Regions from separate parts of the Homo sapiens genome. Here region 2 is linked to region 1. A link means that fine-mapping ties the variant in region 1 to the expression of a gene that starts in the linked region. Tissue or cell type: whole blood. Region 1 holds a variant in brackets; the other region holds the start of a gene. Each region is shown on its reference strand, or each on the opposite one.

The links. PIP is the estimated chance that this variant, and not a neighbour inherited with it, causes the effect.
Region 2: it holds the start of ZNF304, and the variant in region 1 is the best candidate, but not a certain one, in a credible set for the expression of ZNF304 in whole blood (TOPMed, PIP 0.81).

Annotation. Positions count from the first base shown.
Region 1 is chr3:101,519,022-101,527,929 of GRCh38, forward strand. It overlaps the pseudogene ARB2BP. Among named protein-coding and RNA genes, the nearest start is that of SENP7, 10 kb to the left of the region's middle. The variant A/G (reference allele first, on the strand shown) is at 4,886.
Region 2 is chr19:57,345,737-57,355,368 of GRCh38, forward strand. It overlaps ZNF304 (zinc finger protein 304), which reads left to right and starts at 5,535. Exons shown (of 3, transcript NM_020657.4): 1 at 5,535-5,961; 2 at 7,989-8,115. The coding sequence starts at 5,929. RefSeq lists enhancers at 4,711-5,570, 5,528-5,617, 5,571-6,429, 5,768-5,837.

The DNA of each region.
Region 1 (8,908 bases):
AGGAGCTTAAAAAAAATTGGGGAGCGGGGAAGAGGGAATGGCTAGGTCCCTCTGACTTGTCCACACTGATCCTTCAGGTTTACCTATCCTGGTACTTGTTCCATTGGAGGCTTCAGCGGCTAGTTTCTGCTCTGGTAAGTTGTGATTCTCTACATTCACTTGCTTTCAGTCCCTCCAATTTTGGAGGCAGTAGTATGCCCAGTAACCTTACTTATTTTATGGAACTTATGAAGAAGAGCTGTTGATTTTTGGTTTGTCTAGCTTTTTACTTGTTGTTAGGACTGAGTAGCAACTTCCAAGATTTTTACATGCCAGTCTGGAAACAAGAAGTCAACAAACATCACCATTGAAAATTTTGAACAAGGTTGTGACATCCCATTAGATTGTTTCACCACGGCCTCGATGTAAAACATTTTTGGATTTGCTGGGCGCGGTAGCTCACGCCTGTAATCCCAGCACTTTGGGAGGCCGAGGCAGGTGGATCGCCTGAGGTCAGGAGTTCGAGATTAGGCTGGCCAACATGGTGAAACCCTGTCTCTACTAAAAATACAAAAAATTAGCCACGCGTGGTGGCACATGTCTGTAATCCCAGCTACTTGGGAGGCTGAGGCGGGAGAATAGCTTGAACCTGGGAGGTGGAGGTTGCAGTGAGCCAAGGTCGTGCCATTGCACCCCAGCCTAGGGAACAGAGCGAGACTCTGTCTCAAAAAAAAAAAAAATTCTTGGATTTTTGAAGCATGGATTTTTGCCGTGCATTGCATCCATTTTCAAGGCTTTTTTTTTTTTAAAGGATAGTTAAGTCTGTCAATTATTTACACTTTAGAAAAAGTAAATTAATTACGTAATAACATCTGAGAGAGAGGCTGGGCATGGTGACTCACACCTGTAATCCCAGCACTTTGGAAAGCCAAGGCAGGAGGATCACTTGAGCCCAGGAGTTTCAAACCAGCCTAGGCAACATAGTGAGATCCCATCTCTAAAAAAAATTTGTTTTAATTAGCCAGGCACGGTGGCATGTGCCTGTAGTCCTAGCTACCTGGGAGGCTGAGGGGGTGCTTGCTTGGATGTCTTAAATCTCTTTTAATATTTTTTTTTCCCTGAGATAAGAAGGTCAAGGCTGCAGTGAGCTGTGATCACACCACCACGCTCCATCCTGGGTGACAGAGTCAGACCCTGTCTCTCCAAAATAACACCTGAGATCAGCAAAGACTAGAAGCATTTTTCATAGAAAAGGAAGGAATGGAGAGCAGTGTGGATAGTGCTTTGGACAACCAAAAACCTTTATAAAGTACCTGTTGCGTTAGAGGGGTCAGAGAATAAGATTTAGAAAGTGAGAAGGGAGTTAAGAAATCTTAGACCAGCTTATTGAAGTGGGGAAAAAAATTAAAAATTTAGGTGTGGTGGCTCATGCCTGTAATCCTAACACTTTGGGAGGCCGAGGCAGGTGGATTTCCTGAGCTCAGGAGTTCAAGACCAGTCTGGCAACACGGTGAAACCTACTAAAATACAAAAAAATTAGCTAGGTGTGGTGGCATATGCTGTAATCCTAGCTACTTGGGAGGCTGAGACAGGAGAATTGCTTGAACCTGGGAGGTGGAGGTTGCAGTGAGCCAAGATCACACCACTGCACTCCAGCTTGGGCAACAGAGTGAGACTCCATCTCAAAAAAAAAAAATTAAAAGAGATTTAAGACATCCAAGCAACCACCATTTGAATTTTGCCTTAGGCCTAATAGCAACTCAAGTTGCACTGAAAATCATTTTGAGTGCAACTTATTGGAAGTAGGTTGTAGCTTGCCAGTGTCAGTGTTAAGAAATTAAGAAGGGAGAGTGTTAATATATCTGTTAAGAGAGTGCATTTGAGAGTCAGCCTCATATGCAATCATTTCTTTGATAGTTGTCTGGCTTTAGAGAAAGCCACTTAACCTTTCAAAGCCTTTTTTCCCCCGCTTTAAGCTCTACCTACAGCAACTAAGTTAACTTCTCATCTAGCCTATTTTTTTCCTTCTCAGACATCAGAATAACTGTATCTTCTAGTATTCGCTGAATTGATCATAATCTCCATTGCCTGATTCACATTTCACTCCCGCTTCTATCTTCTGCCGTTCATTTAACAGCAAAAGTTATTAAATATCTTCTGCAGAAATAAATGAAGACCAACCAAATGAGAAAAGCCTATTTATTCTGAGCCTGCTGTAGCAAGGGAGTCCACCACTATCACTTGCGTTTTGGCAGAGACTCAAGGCAGGCAGAAGAGTAGGAGAGCTGTATAGTGGGGGAAAAAAGAGAAGACTTCGCATTTGCCCTGATTGCAAGTTGTCATGGGGAAGCTGTAGGTGAGCTAACTAGAAATGGGGACATCTTGCGTGATTGGTTAGGGGTACATATTTGGCTCTCTCTGGTTGGTCTCAAGTTGGAAATAGGGACAAAATTACGAAAGCTGTCAGTTATTAATGAAGTTCTTGCCATTTGGCACCAATTGTTATAGAAGTTACTGGTTAGTTTCCTGAATTTTCACTAGTGATAGAAATCTGGTTTCCTGCCAGTCTGACATACCAGACTGACTTCCTGAGTTGTTTATTGTAAATGAGGGGTTGGCTTCCTGGGCAGGTTGCTGCAGGTTATGTCAAAAAATCCATATTTACATATGGTCTCTCCATTGTCTCTTCATATATTCAGTCTTTCACTGCTTTGAATCATTCACAATTATTTTGAATTGACGTCTTTACCATAGGTTAGAAGGTTAATGTCTTTCTGACATGCTTAATTTAGCATCATGTGCCATAGGAAGAATTTGGCAAGCTGAAATTTTCATTTTACTTTTGCTAGCACTTATATACTATTACTCTTTTAACTTTCAGTGGTTACCAATGACACAGGAGCTGAGCTTCCAAAAATTTATTGAACAATCTGACTTACTAGGAGAACTTAAATATGACTTCAATGAAAAAGATGAATTCAGACATACTGAGACACAAAGGCCTTTTGTCTTTAACTATTATGAAAATGTCCTTGAGAAAAATAGCAAGCGCTACCAGGCCCTTGGCCATTTGCTTGAACAATACATTTATGAGCTTTTGGAGAAAGTGTGCAAATTAGAAAAAGTATATATCCCACCTGAGGCTGATAAAGAAGAACCAAGAAGCTTCTTTTTCATGAGCGAGAAAGCATTAACAAATCACCATTCTGCTCTTCTTATCCTTCTTCAAGACCATGGGGTCTTTCGAGCTGGTCAGTGGAGTCAACAGGCAATAATACATCATGGTCTCCAACATGGAAGTCAGATACCATGTATTCAAATGGCATTGCAGGCACACTATGATGTAATTGTGCTAAACCCCAATGATAATTTTGTGGAACCAAAGGTGGAAAAAGAGTGGAAAGGCCTTTTAACACAAAATATTGAGTCATCTTCTCTAAAAATGGTTCAAGGTGGGAGCTTTTTCTCTCTCCAGCATCCTCCCAAATGCATTCCAAAAAGATGCAGCAACACCCCCGAAGAACACACGGCTTACATATGGGATTACTTCATTTCAAAGACTGAAGGCAAGGATATTGCCTTCATTGTACATGGTTATGGAGGCTTGGTTTTTATGGACTTGCTTGTTCGTAGAAGGTGGGAAGTGATGAGCAAAGTATATGCTGTTGCACTTATCGACTCTGAACATCACGTAGGACACCAGCTGGGAAGTGATGTACAATTATTAGCATGGATAAAGCACCACTGCCGTGAATGGGTGACAAGTCCTAAGCCTTTGGATAAACCTGCAGCTACTGTTTTCAAAAAGGAATTTCCTATGGTTTCTGCTGGCACAGAAAAGTACATCTTAGCCCCTTCCTCTAGCCTTCAGTCAATTTTTAAGTACTTTAAAAAAGCTTTAAAAGCCAGAACAACCATTAATTTCTCTCGAATGCCAATAGTGACTAGAAGCTCCACAAAAAGAAAGCAAAGTGCTTAAACTACTTTTGTCATCTAAGATTTTTTTGTCCTTCTGCAACTTTGCTAATACAGATTCTGGAAGAAAAAAGAACACTTTCAACTCACACACAATATGATGTTCTGGCTTGAGGTTTGATTTGTTACTTTTTATTATTTGGTTTTTATGAGGCAGGGTCTGACTTTGCTGCCCAGGGTGGTATGGAAATCTGGCCTCAAGCGAACCTCCCACCTCAGCCTCCCAAAGTGCTGAGATTATAGGCATTAGCCACTGCACATGGCCATGGCCAGGTTTGTTGCTTTTTTTTTTTTGGAGGAGGAGGAGGAGGAGTCTCTGTCACCCAGGTTGGAGTGCAGTGGCACCATCTCAGCTCACTGCAACCTCCACCTCCTGGTTTCAAGCAGTTCTCCTGCCTCAGCCTCCCAAGTAGCTGGGACTACAGGCACATGCCACCACGCCCAGCTAATTTTTGTATTTTTACTAGAGACGGGCTGTTCGCCAGGCTGGTCTAGGACTCTTGACCTCAGGTGATCCACCCACCTTGGCCTCCCAAAGTGCTGGGCTTACAGGCATAAGCCACTGCACCTGGCCATTTTGTTGCTTTTTTGAAAAGTGAACATATTCTCTCTTTTGTAGCCTGTTGATGAACTGGGAATTCAGTGTCATCATTAATATTTTACAGTGTTAGTTAAGTGTGAAGATCTTTCTTTTAAAAAGCTGTGGTTTGATATAATGACAACAAAATGGCAATTGATAAAAATTAGATATTGAATCAATCTTTGATTTCTATAATAATACCATAGTAAAATTAAAAGTGAACATAAAAATTAAACATCATAAGCAAACTGCATTCTTTGTGTGTTTATGTTTTTTGTTAAAATTTGTTGTACTCCCTGTTCACCAGGTCTGAAGAAAAATAAATTTTAAATAAATTTGTTGGTCTTGTGC[A/G]TATGTTCACTCACATCTTCAACTAATATCTGAGTGCTTACTATGTGCCAGTCAAGACTAGGTGTTTGGGACACCGTAGCAAACAACCCCAACATTGCCTTTCTCTTTACAGAGTTTACAATGGCTGAGAAATTACAAACGTGAAGAGTGTTAAATAGTAAAGGAGACTGGGCGCGGTGTCTCATACCTGTAATCCCAGCACTTTGGGAGGCTGAGGTGGGCGGATCATCTGAGGTCAGGAGTTTGAGATCAGCCTGGCCAACATGGTGAAACCCCATCTCTACTAAAAATACAAAAATTAGCCAAGCATGGTGGCAAGCGCCTGTAATCCCAGCTACTTGGGAGGCTGAGGCAGGAGAATCACGTGAATCTGGGAGGCAAAAGTTGCAGTGAGCCAAGATCGTGCCACTCCACTTCAACCTGGACGACAAGAGTGAAACTCCATCTTAAAAAAAAAAAAAAAAAAAAAAAAAAAGGAAAGGGTGCCATGGAATATCTACCATGAGAGCTAACCAGCCTTGGGGTTCAGGGAATATTTCCCAAAGAAAATGATGCTTAGTTTGAAGAACAATAGTAGTTGGCTAGGGGAACAAAGTCACAGGCAAATGAACAGCCTATGCAAAGGTGTTCAGGCAGGAGAAAGAAGGCTAGCTCAGCTACAGCTGAAAGACTGAGAAGGAATAGCATGTTCAGAAATAAATTATTTATGACACTTGTTGATACAGTTTAGATTTGGATATTTGTTCCTACCCAAATCTCATGTTGAATTGTAATACCCAGTGCTGGATGTGAGGCCCTGTAGGAGGTGTTTGGGTCATGGGGGCAGATCCCTCATAGCTTGGTGCTGTCTTCACAATAGTGAGTTCTAGTGAGATCTGGTCATTTGAAAATGTGTGGTGCCTCCCCCACCCTCTCTCTCTCTTGCTCCTGCTCTGCCATGTGAGTGGCCTGCTCCCCTTCACCTTCTACCATGAATAAAAGCTCCCTGAGGCCTTCCCAGAAGCCAAGCAGTTGTTAGTGCCATGTTGCCTGTATAGCCTCCAAAACCATAAGCCAATTAAACCCCTATTCTTTATAAATTACCCAGTCTCAGGTATTTCTTTATAGCATGCAAGAACACCCTAACACAGAAAATTAGTCCCAAGGAGAAAGATGTTGCTAGAAAGATACCTGAAAATGTGGAAGCAGCTTTGGAACTGGGTAATGGGCAGAGGTTGGAATGGTTTGCAGGGCTCAAAAGAAGATAAGAAGATGAGGGAAAGCTTGTAATTTCGTAGAGACCAGTTAAATGGTAGTGACCAAAATGCTGATAGTGATATGGACAGTGAAGACCAGGCTGACGAGGTCTTAGATGGAAATGTGGAACTTAGGGACTGGAGCAAAGTTCACACATGTTATGCCTTAGCAAAGAGCTTGGCTGCATTGTGCCACTGCCCTAGGTTCTGTGGAAGTTTGAACGTGAGAGTGATGATTTAGGTATCTGGCAGAAAAAGTTTCTACACAGCAAAGCATTCAAGATGTCGCCTGGCTACTTCTAACAGCCTACATTCAAATGTGGGAGCAAAGAAATGACTCAAATTTAAAATTTATATTTAAGCAGGAAGCAGAGCGTGAATGTTTGGAAAATTTGCAAACTGCCCATGAGGTAGAAAAAAGGCTTTTTCAGGAGAGGAATTCAAGTGAGCTGTAGAGTAACCCCTTGCTAGAGATATTTGCATAACTGAAAGGGAGCTAAGTGCTAATATCCAAGGCAGTGGGAAAAGTCCTTGAGGACAGACATTTCAGAGACATTTGAGGCAGCCCATCCCATTACAGGCCCAGAGGCCTAGGAAGGAAGAATGGTTTCATGGGTCAGACCAAGGGCCCCAGTGCCCTGTGCAGCCTCAGACACTGCTTCCCACATCCCAGCTACTCAAGCTCTAGCTAGGACTCAAAGGGGCCCAGGTTCAGCTCAGGCCACAGCTCCACAGGGTGCAGGCCATAAGCCTTGGGGGCTTCAACATGATGGTAAGCCTGTGGGTGCACAGAGTGCAAGAGTTGAGGCTTGGCAGCCTCTGCCTGGATTTCAGAGGATACATGAAAAAGCCTGAGTGGTTAGGCATGGTGGCTCACACCTGTAATCCTAGCACTTTGGGAGGCCAAAGTAGGTGGATCACTTGAGCCTAGGAGTTCAAGACCAGCCTGGGCAACATGGCAAAACTCCATCTCCACAAAAAATACAAAAATTAGCCAGGCATGATGGCACACACCTGTAGTCCCACCTACTCAGGAAGATGAGTTGGGAAGACTGAGCCTGGAATGCCTAGGCCCACAGTGAGCCATGATGGTGCCACTGCACTCCAGCCTGGGCAACAGAGTGAGACCCTGTCTTAAAAAAAAAAAAAAAAAAAAGCCGAGTGTCTAGACAGAAGCTTGCTATAGGGGCAGAGCCCTCACAGAGAACTGCTCCTAGTACAGTGCCAAGGGGAAATGTGGGGTTGGAGGCCCAACACAGAGTTTCTACTGGGGCACTGCCTAGTGAAAGCTGTGAGAAGGGGACCACCATCCTCCAGACCCCAGAGTGGTAGAGCCACTGGCAGCTTGCAACCTGTACCTAGAAAAGCTCCTGGCTGTCAACAACCTGTGAGAACAGTTGTAGGGGCTAGATCCTGCAAAGCCACAGGAGTGGAGCTGCCCAAGGCCTTAGGATCCCACCCCTTATACTAATGTGCTCTGGATGTGGGACATAGAGTCAAAGGAGGTTGTTTTTGGAGCTCTAAAATTTAATGACTGCCCTGCTAGGTTTCAAGCTTGTATAGGGCCTGTAGCCCCTTTCTTTTGGCTGATTTCTCCCTTTTGGAATGGGAATATTTACCCAATGCCTATACCTCCATTGTATCTTGGAAGTAACTAACTTCTTTTTTATTTTATAGGTTCATACATGGAAGGAACTTGCCTTGCCTCAGATGAGACTCTGGACTTTTGAGTTAATGCTGGAATGAGTTAAGATTTGGGGGGACTGTTGGAAAGGCATGATTGTATTTTGCAAAGTGATGAGGACATGAGATTTGGGCCACGGGCAGAATGATAAAGTTTGGATATTTGTCCCTGCCCAAATTTCATGTTGAATTGTAATCCCCAATGCTGGAGGTGGGACCTGGTGGGAGGTGTTTGGGTCATGGGGGCAGATTCCTGATGGCTTGGTGCCATCTTCATGATAGTGAGTTTTCAAAAAATCTGGTCATTTACAAGTGTGTGGTACTCTCCTTACCTTGCTTGCCCCTGCTCTTACCACGTGAGATGCCTGTTCCCCCCTCACCTTCTTCCATGATTGTAAGCTTCCTGAGGCCTCTCCAGAAGTAGATGCTGATGCTATGCTTCCTGTACAGCCTGCAGAACTGTGAGCCAATTAAACTTATTTTCTTATATATTACCCAGTCTTGGGTATTTCCTTATAGCAATGCAAGAATGGCCTAATATACTTGTTGAAGACAGTAAGGAAGATCTTATACAAGGACTACTGCAGTGAGGAATTTGCAGTAGGAGAGAAAGATCAGGCTCAACTCTGAATACAAGGACTAGTGGAGATTTATAGCCAAGGAGCAAGGTGGGGTCAGTGGATGAAAAATTACTAAAAGAAAATATCAGGGCTATGTGATGGTTAATACTGAGTGTCAACTTGATTGGATTAAAGGATACAAAGTTTTGATCTTGCGTGTGTCTGTGAGGGTGTTGCCAAAAGAGATTAACATTTGAGTCAGTGGACTGGGGAAAACAGATCCACCCTTAATCTGGTGGGCACTATCTAATCAGCTTCCAGCGAATATAAAGCAGGCAGAAAAACATGAAAAAAGAGAGATGGGCCTAGCCTCACAGCCTACATCTTTCTCGTGTGCTGGATGCTTCCTGCCCTTGAACATCGGTTCCAGGTTCTTCAGTTTTGGGACTCAGACTGGCTCTCCTTGCTCCTCAGCTCGCAGACAGCCTATTGTGGGACCTTGTGATCATGTAAATTAATACTTAATAAACTTCCCTCACCCCCCC
Region 2 (9,632 bases), not on the chromosome of region 1:
CTCACCTGGAATCACTTTTTTTTTGCCTTAAATATAACCTTTTGGGTTACCTTTTTAACTAAAATTTTCATTTTTTACCTCATATGGTCTTATTTTATACTGCTTCTTGAAAAACACTATTGTTGTGAATAGAAATCTAGGTTTGCACTTATTTCTTCAGTAACTTCACTGTATCCTTCCACTACATCCATGAGTCACTATATACTGGATGTGAGTGGAGACAATTTATATTGTGACTATAGTCTTCCTGTGCTACAGAAACAAAATTTGATGGCGGTGGTGTTTTGTTTTGTTTTGTTTTTGTTTTTGCTTTTGTTTTGCTTTTGAGACAGAGTTTTGCTCTTGTCGCCCAGGCTGGAATGCAATGGCAGAATCTCGGCTCACTGCAACTTCCACCTCCCAGGTTCAAGCGATTCTCCTGCCTCAGCCTCCCAAGTAGCTGGGATTACAGGCACCCAACACCATGCCCTGCTAATTTTTGTATTTTTAGTAGAGACGGGGTTTCACCATGTTGGCCAGGCTGGTCTTGAACTCCTGACCTCAAGTGATCCACCCACCTCGGCCTCTCAAAGTGCTGGGATTACAGGCATGAGCCACTGTACTCAGCGGTGATGGTGGTTTTTTTGTGTTTTGTTTTTGTTTTTGGAGATGGAGTTTCGTTCTTATTGCCCAGGCTGGAGTGCAATGGTGCGATCTCCGCTCAACGAAACCTCCGCCTCCCGGGTCCAAGCAATTCTCCCGCCTCAGCTTCCCGACTAGCTTGGGTTACAGGCATATGCCACCAGGCCTGGCTAATTTTGTATTTCTAGACACGGGGTTTCTCCATGTTGGTCAGGCTGGTCTTGAACTCCCAACCTCAGGTGATCTGCCCGCCTCGGCCTCCCAAAGTGCTGGGATTACAGGCGTGAGCCGCCACGCCCAGCTGGTGATGTTTTGATGAGGACAGGACCTGACTTATGTCTCTTAGTTTCAGGCAGGACCCTCTCATAATCAAGTTTGTGATTGGATCTACCTGCCTTGAGTGCCAGAAGGGAGAACGAGAGGTAGAGAGGCAGGTTTCGGTTACTGTGAATGAAAGATGAATAAGGAAGTGTCCTCTAAAGTCACAAACTTGAAACGGGATGAATTCTACTCTCCACTTAGGTCTGAGAGCAATTAGTCCTGCTATTTCCAAAATTAGAATCTTCTTTTTAAAATTTTAGTTTTAGAGACAGGGTCTCGCTCTGTTGCTCGGGCTAGAGTACAGTGGCGGGATCATAGCACATAGCAGCTTTGAACTCCTAGACTCAAGCCATTCTCCTGTCTCAGCCTCCCGAATAACTGGGACTACAGTCCAAAAATTTGAATCTTGTGGCCTGTAATAACGAGTCTCTTGAGCAGCATGCCTACCTATGGTTTTAGGCACACTTTTTCTGAACTGTTGAAGAAATAACCCAAATGTGTGCTTTCATGTAAAATCTTTAATCATACCTATGAGGCTAGCTGCTGAGTTAGGGTGTTATTGTATTTTATGTTTTGATAAATGCCAAAGATCCTGCTGAGGCTTAGCCTCCCACAGAGTATATTTACTTCTTTTCATATTTTCCATGTATCTCTTTTATTGATTCATATCTTGATAGCATCATGTGTCTTATTTCACTCTATGTGAATTGAAGATAGTTTTCAGTCATCTATATTGATAGTTCTGTAAATATTCAGTTGTACTAAATATAAGCACCCCATATTTGTATTTATTAGACCAGAATTATCAATCTTGGCATGAGAATTCACTAGAACTTTAACAATTTTATATTGTTTCTACTAATTGCTGAGATAATGGACATAAAAATGCTCAGCATATTCATAGATTTATGTCTTTATCCTTTTACAAATTGTTGCTTTATGTAATACAAGTCAGCATTATACATTACATAGAGTTCAAAATATAATTTCTTGGTGATCATTTCTTTCTTTTTTTGTTTTCTTTCTTTCTTTCTTTCTTTTTTTTTTTGTTTTTGAGATGGAGTTTAGCTCTTGTCGCCCAGGCTGGAGTGCTATGGCGTGATCTCTCGGCTCACTGCAACCTCCGCCTGCCGGGTTCAAGCGATTCTCTCACCTCAGCCTCCTGAGTAGCTGGGACTACAGGTGCCCGCCACCACGCCCAGCTAATTTTGTATTTTTAGTAGAGACGGGGTTTCACCATGTTGGCCAGGCTGGTCTTGAACTCCTGATTCACCTGCCTTGACCTGCCAAAGTGCTGGGATTACAGGCATGAGCCACTGCACTTGGCCAGTGATCGTTTCTTTAATACTGATATTTTCTGATATAAATTTTCATTTTCATGTGTTAATTCTTTGTTGTATTAAATATATTTTTCCCAAAGCTGTTTCATATAGTTTTCTAATATTATACTCTACAAGTGTTTCTTGTACCCATACTACTGTTTTTTGTTTTTGTTCTTTATGAGAGACGGTCTTACTGTCTCTCCCAGGCCGGAGTGCTGTGACACCATCAGAACTCTGTGCAGCCTTGGCTCAAGTCATCATCCTGGCTCAGCCTCCTGAGTAGCTGGGATTACAGGCTTGTGCCACCACACCCTGCTATTACTTTTTTTTTTTTTTTTTTTTTTTTTTTGGTAGAGATGGGGCCTTGTTACGTGGCTCAGGCTGATCTATTAATAGAATTCCTGACCTCAAGCAGTTCTCTTGCTTCAGCCTCCCACATTGCAGGAATTATAGGCATGAGCCTCTGTGCCTGGCCTTTTGGAAATTTTTAACACATCAAAACTTACTAAGTGCTAATTTAAGAATTTATTCCATACTCATTTCATGAGATAGCTGATATATTTGGGTTTATATACATCCTCTGGTTGTGTGTGTGCTTTTCTTTGCCTTACTTATTGTGTGTACTTTATTTTTTGTAATGTTTTCTTTACATTTACATTTTCTTTAAATTTGTAAGATATATACTCTGATTCAGTTAATGTTTAAGCTTTAAAACAGTTATTTAATACATTATAGAGTTAATGTATTTGCTCTCCTCAAGAAATATAAGAAACTTATATGTTAGTTAATTTGCCCATATGAGTTTATATACTATTGAGGATATGCATGGTAATTCCACCATTCTGTTTCCAGAAGTATTAATATTTTATTTTATTTTTTATTTTAATTTTTATTTATTTATTTATTTTGAGATGCAGTCTCACTCTGTTGCCTAGGCTGGAGTGCAGTGGCACAGTCTTGGCTCACTGCAACCTCCGCTTCCCGGGTTCAAGTGATTCTCCTGCCTCAGCCTTCTGAGTAGCTGGGATTACAGGCGCCCACCACCACGCCTGGCTAATTTTTGTATTTTTAGTAGAAACAGGGTTTCACCATGTTGGACAGGCTGGTCTCGAACTCCTGAGCTCGTGATCCGCCTGCCTTGGCCTCCCAAAGTGCTGAGATTACAGGCGTGAGCCACCGCGCCCAACAGTATTAATATTTTATACAGATAATGAGTGGTCTCATTAATCCATAGATGCACTCCTCTCTCAGATCCTCATTTCTTCTATCATCACAGACCATCACCTGGGATCACTTTCCTTCAACCTTAAGAAGGATCTTAAAAGTGTTATTTTATGCCAGTTATTTTTATCCATTAAATTTCTCATTTTGGGCTTCAAATAGTCTTATTTCAGTTTTTCTTAGCCAGTGCATTTGTCGTGCATAGAAATCTGCTGGCAGTTATATCTGTAACTGACTCCGTATGTTATTCCATGTGTTCCTGACACCTAAATTTATATTGGCTTTGAGTGGAGACAGATAATTTATATTATACATATATATAATTATGTATGTGTGTATATAAACTACATGTGTATATATATATAAATGCTGTGTGTATGTGTGTATATATATTTTTTCTCAAAGATATGAATTATTTCTATGTCATCTCATAAAATAAACCAGGTTATAAAATTTTAACTACAGTGACTCTTAAGTGGACAGTGGAGTTAAAAATTATGAAGAGCAATTAGTCTTGATAGTTCTGTGTTTTGAATCATACAGCCTATAAGAATGTGTCTTCTGGACGATAGACCTACCTGTAGTTTATGAAACCCTCTTGCATGTGATTTTTTTCAATTAAATGAGTCTATTGATATATTGGTGTGCTTTTGTGCAAAAATTATAACCATTAGGGGCTCCCACCTGTAATCCCAGCACTTTGGAAGACTGAGGCAGTTGGATCACCTGAGGTCAGGAGTTCGAGACCAGCCTGACCAACACGGAGAAACCCCATCTCTACTAAAAATACAAAATTAGCCGGGCATGGTGGCGGATGCTTGTAATCCCAGCTACTCGGGAGGCCGAGGCAGGAGAATCGCTTGAACCTGGGAGGGAGAGGTTGCAGTGAGCTGAGATCGTGCCATTGCACTTAAGCCTGGGCAACAAGAGTGAAACTCTGTCTCAAAAAAAAATTATAACTATTATCTATGATGCTATTTGATGAGTGAGGGAATAATTGTACTTTTTTCTTTTTTTTTCAAAATCACACTGATCCTGAAAAGGTGGATCTTTGATTTATCTTCCTAAAGCAGTGTATGTGAGAACCTTGTGTTGAGGAAGACTGATAACAGCTTGTATGTATTTAGCACGATGTGCCAGGCCTGGTGTTAAGTACTTTTTACCTCACTTCCCATATTCCTAATGAGGTTGGTTGTAGTGTTTTTCATCTTACTGATTTTTTTTTGTTTGTTTTTGTTTTGTTTTGTTTTTGGCTAATGACTTTAAAAGACCTCCAGTTCTTGAACTTCAGCTAGGGTCCCATCCCCAGAGTTTATCAGAAGGTATAGGTTGGGTCCAAGAATTCACAGGTTTTTTAAGTTCATAGTGAAGCTGATGCTGTAAAACTACATATCAAATTGGGAAGCAATGAATTAGAAGAGGCTCATGTTTTCGTCATGTTACATGTAAGTTCCTCCTTCACTTTTCGCCATGAATAAAAGTTCCCTGTGGCCTCACCAGAAGCAGATACGGGCACCATGCTTCCTGTACAGCCAGCAGAAAGGTAGCTAATTACATCTCTTTTCTTTATATGTTAGAAAAATTAGAAGGACATTCAATGTTTTACAAAAAGGCCCACAAACGAAATACAGACAACGTTCAATTTATTAATACGTTTCAATCCCCAAATCTGAGAGAGGTGAAGCAGGTTTCCCAGGGCCTCAGAAGCAGGATTGAAGAATGGGTCCCTTGCTGGCGACTTCAGTGGCGTGGCATTGTCCCAGGTGGCCATGGAAATCAGGGTGCATACCCTTTAAAAGCAGCTGTGGCCTCCGAGATATCGTTTTCCCAGTCTTTTCTCCCCCTCCCTGCACGACGCCTCTTGGCAGACATCCGGGAGAACCCGAAAGGCGCTCGTTGCCTGGTTGGATGCAGGGTACAAACTACGTTACCCAGAAATCTGTGCCCAGCTCATTGTTAGCCGGCGTGCAGCCAATGACAGCCCAGAAACTGGGCGTTTCCTGCTGCTCTGGGCTGCAGGGGCGAGACTTCTGGCGTCGCCGTCGTGACGTATTTTTCCTATGCCCGGTCCGTGCATTCTGGTTGTGAAGGCTGAGTTCTAGAGATCGGGTCGGCTTTCTACGCGGCTCTCGTGGAACCTAGCAAAGAAAGACAGTGAAGACTGCAGGACCTTCCTTCGCGCTTTTGTTACAATCCATGACCCCTGTCGTGGGACGGGCGGCCTCTCGCGGAGGTGTCTGCCGGGGCTGGGCTCTTACCGAGGCCTCCACACACGTCCTCTTGTCCTTGTCTCCCCCAGAAGCAGCCGCCTTAGTCTTGTGAGCGTTTTTACACCGGGTAGATTGAGACTTGGAGTGCTACACTCAGCCCGAGGGCGTCCAGCGCGGTGGAGGCGTGGGGTTTCGGCTGAGCCCACAGGGCACAGACTGTTCATCCGCTTCTCATGGCAGCGGCGGTGCTGATGGACCGGGTTCAGGTGAGTGGGGGCATCCCTCAAGCGCACCCCGGCCTGGTTGGTGTGTCCTGGGATGTTCGCTCTCATCGCGCACTTCAGGGTGCTCACTCCGTCGCATTATGTGGAGGGGTTCCGCTCCCCTCATCAGTGGCATAAGGTGTGGAACGGACTCGAAGGCGCAGGGGCAGTTCGTACAAATGCATGCATGGAGAGGAGAATGAGTTTGGGGAGTTCCGGGAACTCTCTGTGCCTGGTGAGAACAGGGACTAGGGGGTCAGAGGTAGGCCTGGAATGGCCGCCCGAGGAGCTGGTCCTCTCTTCTGAGGGTGCTGGGAGTCATGCAAGGTTTGGTACAGAGAAGGGAGGTCCTCTGACGCAGTTCTTAAAAGGCTCCCTCTGGCTGCAGAGTGGGTAGACTAGGGATTATAGGGTAGACGGGGAGATCAAGATGAAGTCTACTGAAATAGTCCAGGTGAGCGTTGATGGTCTGGGCCAGAGTGGTGGCAGCAGAGGTTAGAGAATGTATGGGTTTTGGGTTTTGTATGTATTTTATAAGGAAGGCTGACCAGATTCTCTGATGAGACATAGTGATGATATCCTGGGATTCTTCACATGACTGTCTTCACTTGAGACAGGGGGCAGTGAATGGAGGTCATTTCTAGTTTAGTGTCCTGAATCCAGGCCATGAGTTGTATGGAGTTATGTGGAGAAGTCCCCACCTGGCGACCAATGGGATGAGTACTGCAAAAGTATATCAGACCTAGGAACAGGTACGCTCAAATGCTTGTAGGATTGAGTTTGGAGCGCTCAGGGAATCTCAGGTCTTAATTACCTTTGTTGGAAACAGGTATCAGAGGAAGGAGTTAGGCAGGAATGGCTGGCCGAGGTGTCTTGAGTGTGGTAAAAGTCGTGGGAGATTTGGAGCAGAGGAGGGAGATGATCTGACTCAGATTTTAACATGCTCTCTCTGGCTTTCAGGTTGAGAACAGACTGTGAGCATGAGGGAGCAGCTACTGCAGTAGTGTTGATGGTGTCTGGTCTAGAGGTGTGGCTGTGGAGGTGAGAGAAGTTGGTAAATTTTCTGTTTTTTAAAGTAGGGTGATTGGATTTTTTGATGCGAAAGGTGAAAGAGAGGAGAGTCGTGGATGACCCTAAGGTTGGTTTGTTTTTGCTGTAGCTGGTAAAATTATGAAAATGCCATCAACTGAGATAGAGAAGTTGGCAGCAGGTATGATTTTTAGTGGTTATATCAGGAGTTAGGCTTTGGTCATGTTTAGGTTAAGAGGTCTCAGTTGTCATCTTAGTTGAGGCCTCAGGAAAACACACAGGTTTTTAGTTCTGGGGAAGGGTTCTGTTGAAGAAGTTGAAAAAAATGGTGGCCAGTGTGTGGAGTGGGATGGGGTATCTTCAAATCATGGTGGTAATGCTGTTATTCAGTAAGAAAGTTGAAACTGGACACTGAGAGAAAACTGGGTCTGTTGCTTAGGCACCTGGACGGCAGTGGTGGATAGTGTGAAGACGCGAGCGCTTCCTGGACACTGCTTGCAGAGTGGCATGGGGGATGAGGGATGTCATGGAGGTGCATATGGCATGGGCCAGTGGCGGTGGGGATCTCAGATGTGAGGAAGGTGTAGTCCAAAGAGTAATGAGCACGTTGGGAGGAGTGTGAACTGATGCCCTTAAGACTCTAGTATTGGCAGCTCATGGGAGAAGATGGAGCTGAAGTTTGGTTGTGTTTAGAGGCATCGTCTGGACAACACCAGGAGAACTGGTTGGTAGGCGAGTATTTGGGACCCTTCATGCCAGACCCAGAGTTGAGACAGCATCTGTCTGCACACTTGCCTGGTTCTGCTCTGGGCTGGACACAGTGGTGAGAGGGACATGAGGAGAGAGCAGACACTAGTGGTGCCAAGGTCTGTTATCTCCTCTTAGTTGGGAGGCTGGGGAGGCGAGGGACTAGAGAGTGGGTGTGTGAGTGTGTAGACTGGGGAGGAGGGGGTTCTGGGGAGAGATGCTGACTGTGGACTCAGCTGTACTTATCATGGCAGAGTTGTGTGACCTTCGAGGATGTGTTCGTGTACTTCTCTCGGGAGGAGTGGGAACTCCTTGAGGAGGCACAGAGATTCCTGTACCGTGATGTGATGCTGGAGAACTTTGCACTTGTGGCTACACTAGGTAAGTCTGTGTTTTAGTTATCTAATGCTACATGGCAAATTATCCCAAAGCTTAGTAACTGCAAACAATAAAAATCAATTATCTCTCCAGTTTCAGTGCATTGGTAATCTGGTTAGAGCATTTTTTGTTGTTTATTATTTTGAGGGTTTTTTTTTTGTTTTTTGTTTTTTGTTTTTTCAGAGAGTCTTACTCTGTCACCCAGGCTACAGTGCAGTGTTGTGATCATGGTTCACTGCAGCCTCAAATTCTTGGGCTCAAGTGATCCCCCCCACCTCACCCTCCTGAGTAGCTGGGACTATAGGTGCATGCCACCACGCCCGGCTATTTTACTTTTTGTAGAGATAAGGTCTTGCTACGTTGCCCAGGCTGGTCTAGAGCTCCTGACCTCAAGCGATCCTTCCTCCTTGGCCTCCCAAAGTGCTGGGATTACAGGCTTGAGCCAGTGTGCCCAGCCTGATCACACCTTCTTATGCAGGTGCTTTTGGCTCTCATGAAGTTTTAATCAAGCTCTCAGCCAGTGTTGTGGTCTTACCTGAGAAGAATCCACTTACAAGCTCACTCACATTGCTTTTTGCAAGATTTAGTTTCTTGTGGCTTGTTGGACTGTGAGCACTGTTCCTTGCTGGCTGTTGGCCAAAGTCCTCCCTCAGGTGGCCTGTCTGTATTGTACCTTATGACACAGAAGCTAACTTCTCTTTGAGCAAGTGACCAAAAGAATGTTCAAGATGGAAGCCCAGGATTGTAACCTAATCTTGAAAGTGTCATTTCATTATTTTTGCCATATTCTATTCCTTGGAAATAAGTAAGTCCATCCAGCTTACAATCAAGTGAGGAGGCTTACACAGGGGCAAGAGTACCAAGAGGTAGGGATCACTGGGACCATCTCAGAGGCTGTGTTCCACAGGCCTTTACACCCACTCCGGTGTCCTTGGTGGGGTTTGAGTCTTCTTCTCTTCCCCATGGGCCACTCTTTCTGTCCATCCAGATCCATGACTCTTCTCCTTCCCTTCTTTGTTTCCCAGAGTAGGTGCTGTGGGTTCTAGGGCTGGCTGTGTTCAGTGTTTCTGCCTTCACTGGGTAATCTGAACATCTGTTGCCCTAGAGCTTTGCAGGAAAAGGTTAGGATTCGGGAGTTTTTCAGTCTGCTAAGCAGATTCTACACAGCTCAGGTGCCCACTGCCTGAGTCCGTGTCATGATCTTTGCACCTCTTTGTCCTAGATTCTGCCCTCATCCTCTGGCTGACATTTCCTGGGGCCTGACTGTGCCAGGAATTTCAGGGGCTGACACAGTCACTTCTTGTGGTGATTACAGGGCTGTCCTGGTACATCCGCCTTGGAGAGTATTTTTTCTAAACATTCTATTTTCTCTGTGGAGTGGGTCTACCTGCGCCACTCACCTGCCCTTTGTTTGCGTTACAGCTTTCATTTTCCCAGTCCCATGCAGTTGCGCAGTTGGAGGGGGCAGAAAACCTTGGGTGCCTGACAGGGCAGACATCACTGCAGCCACAGTAAAGGAG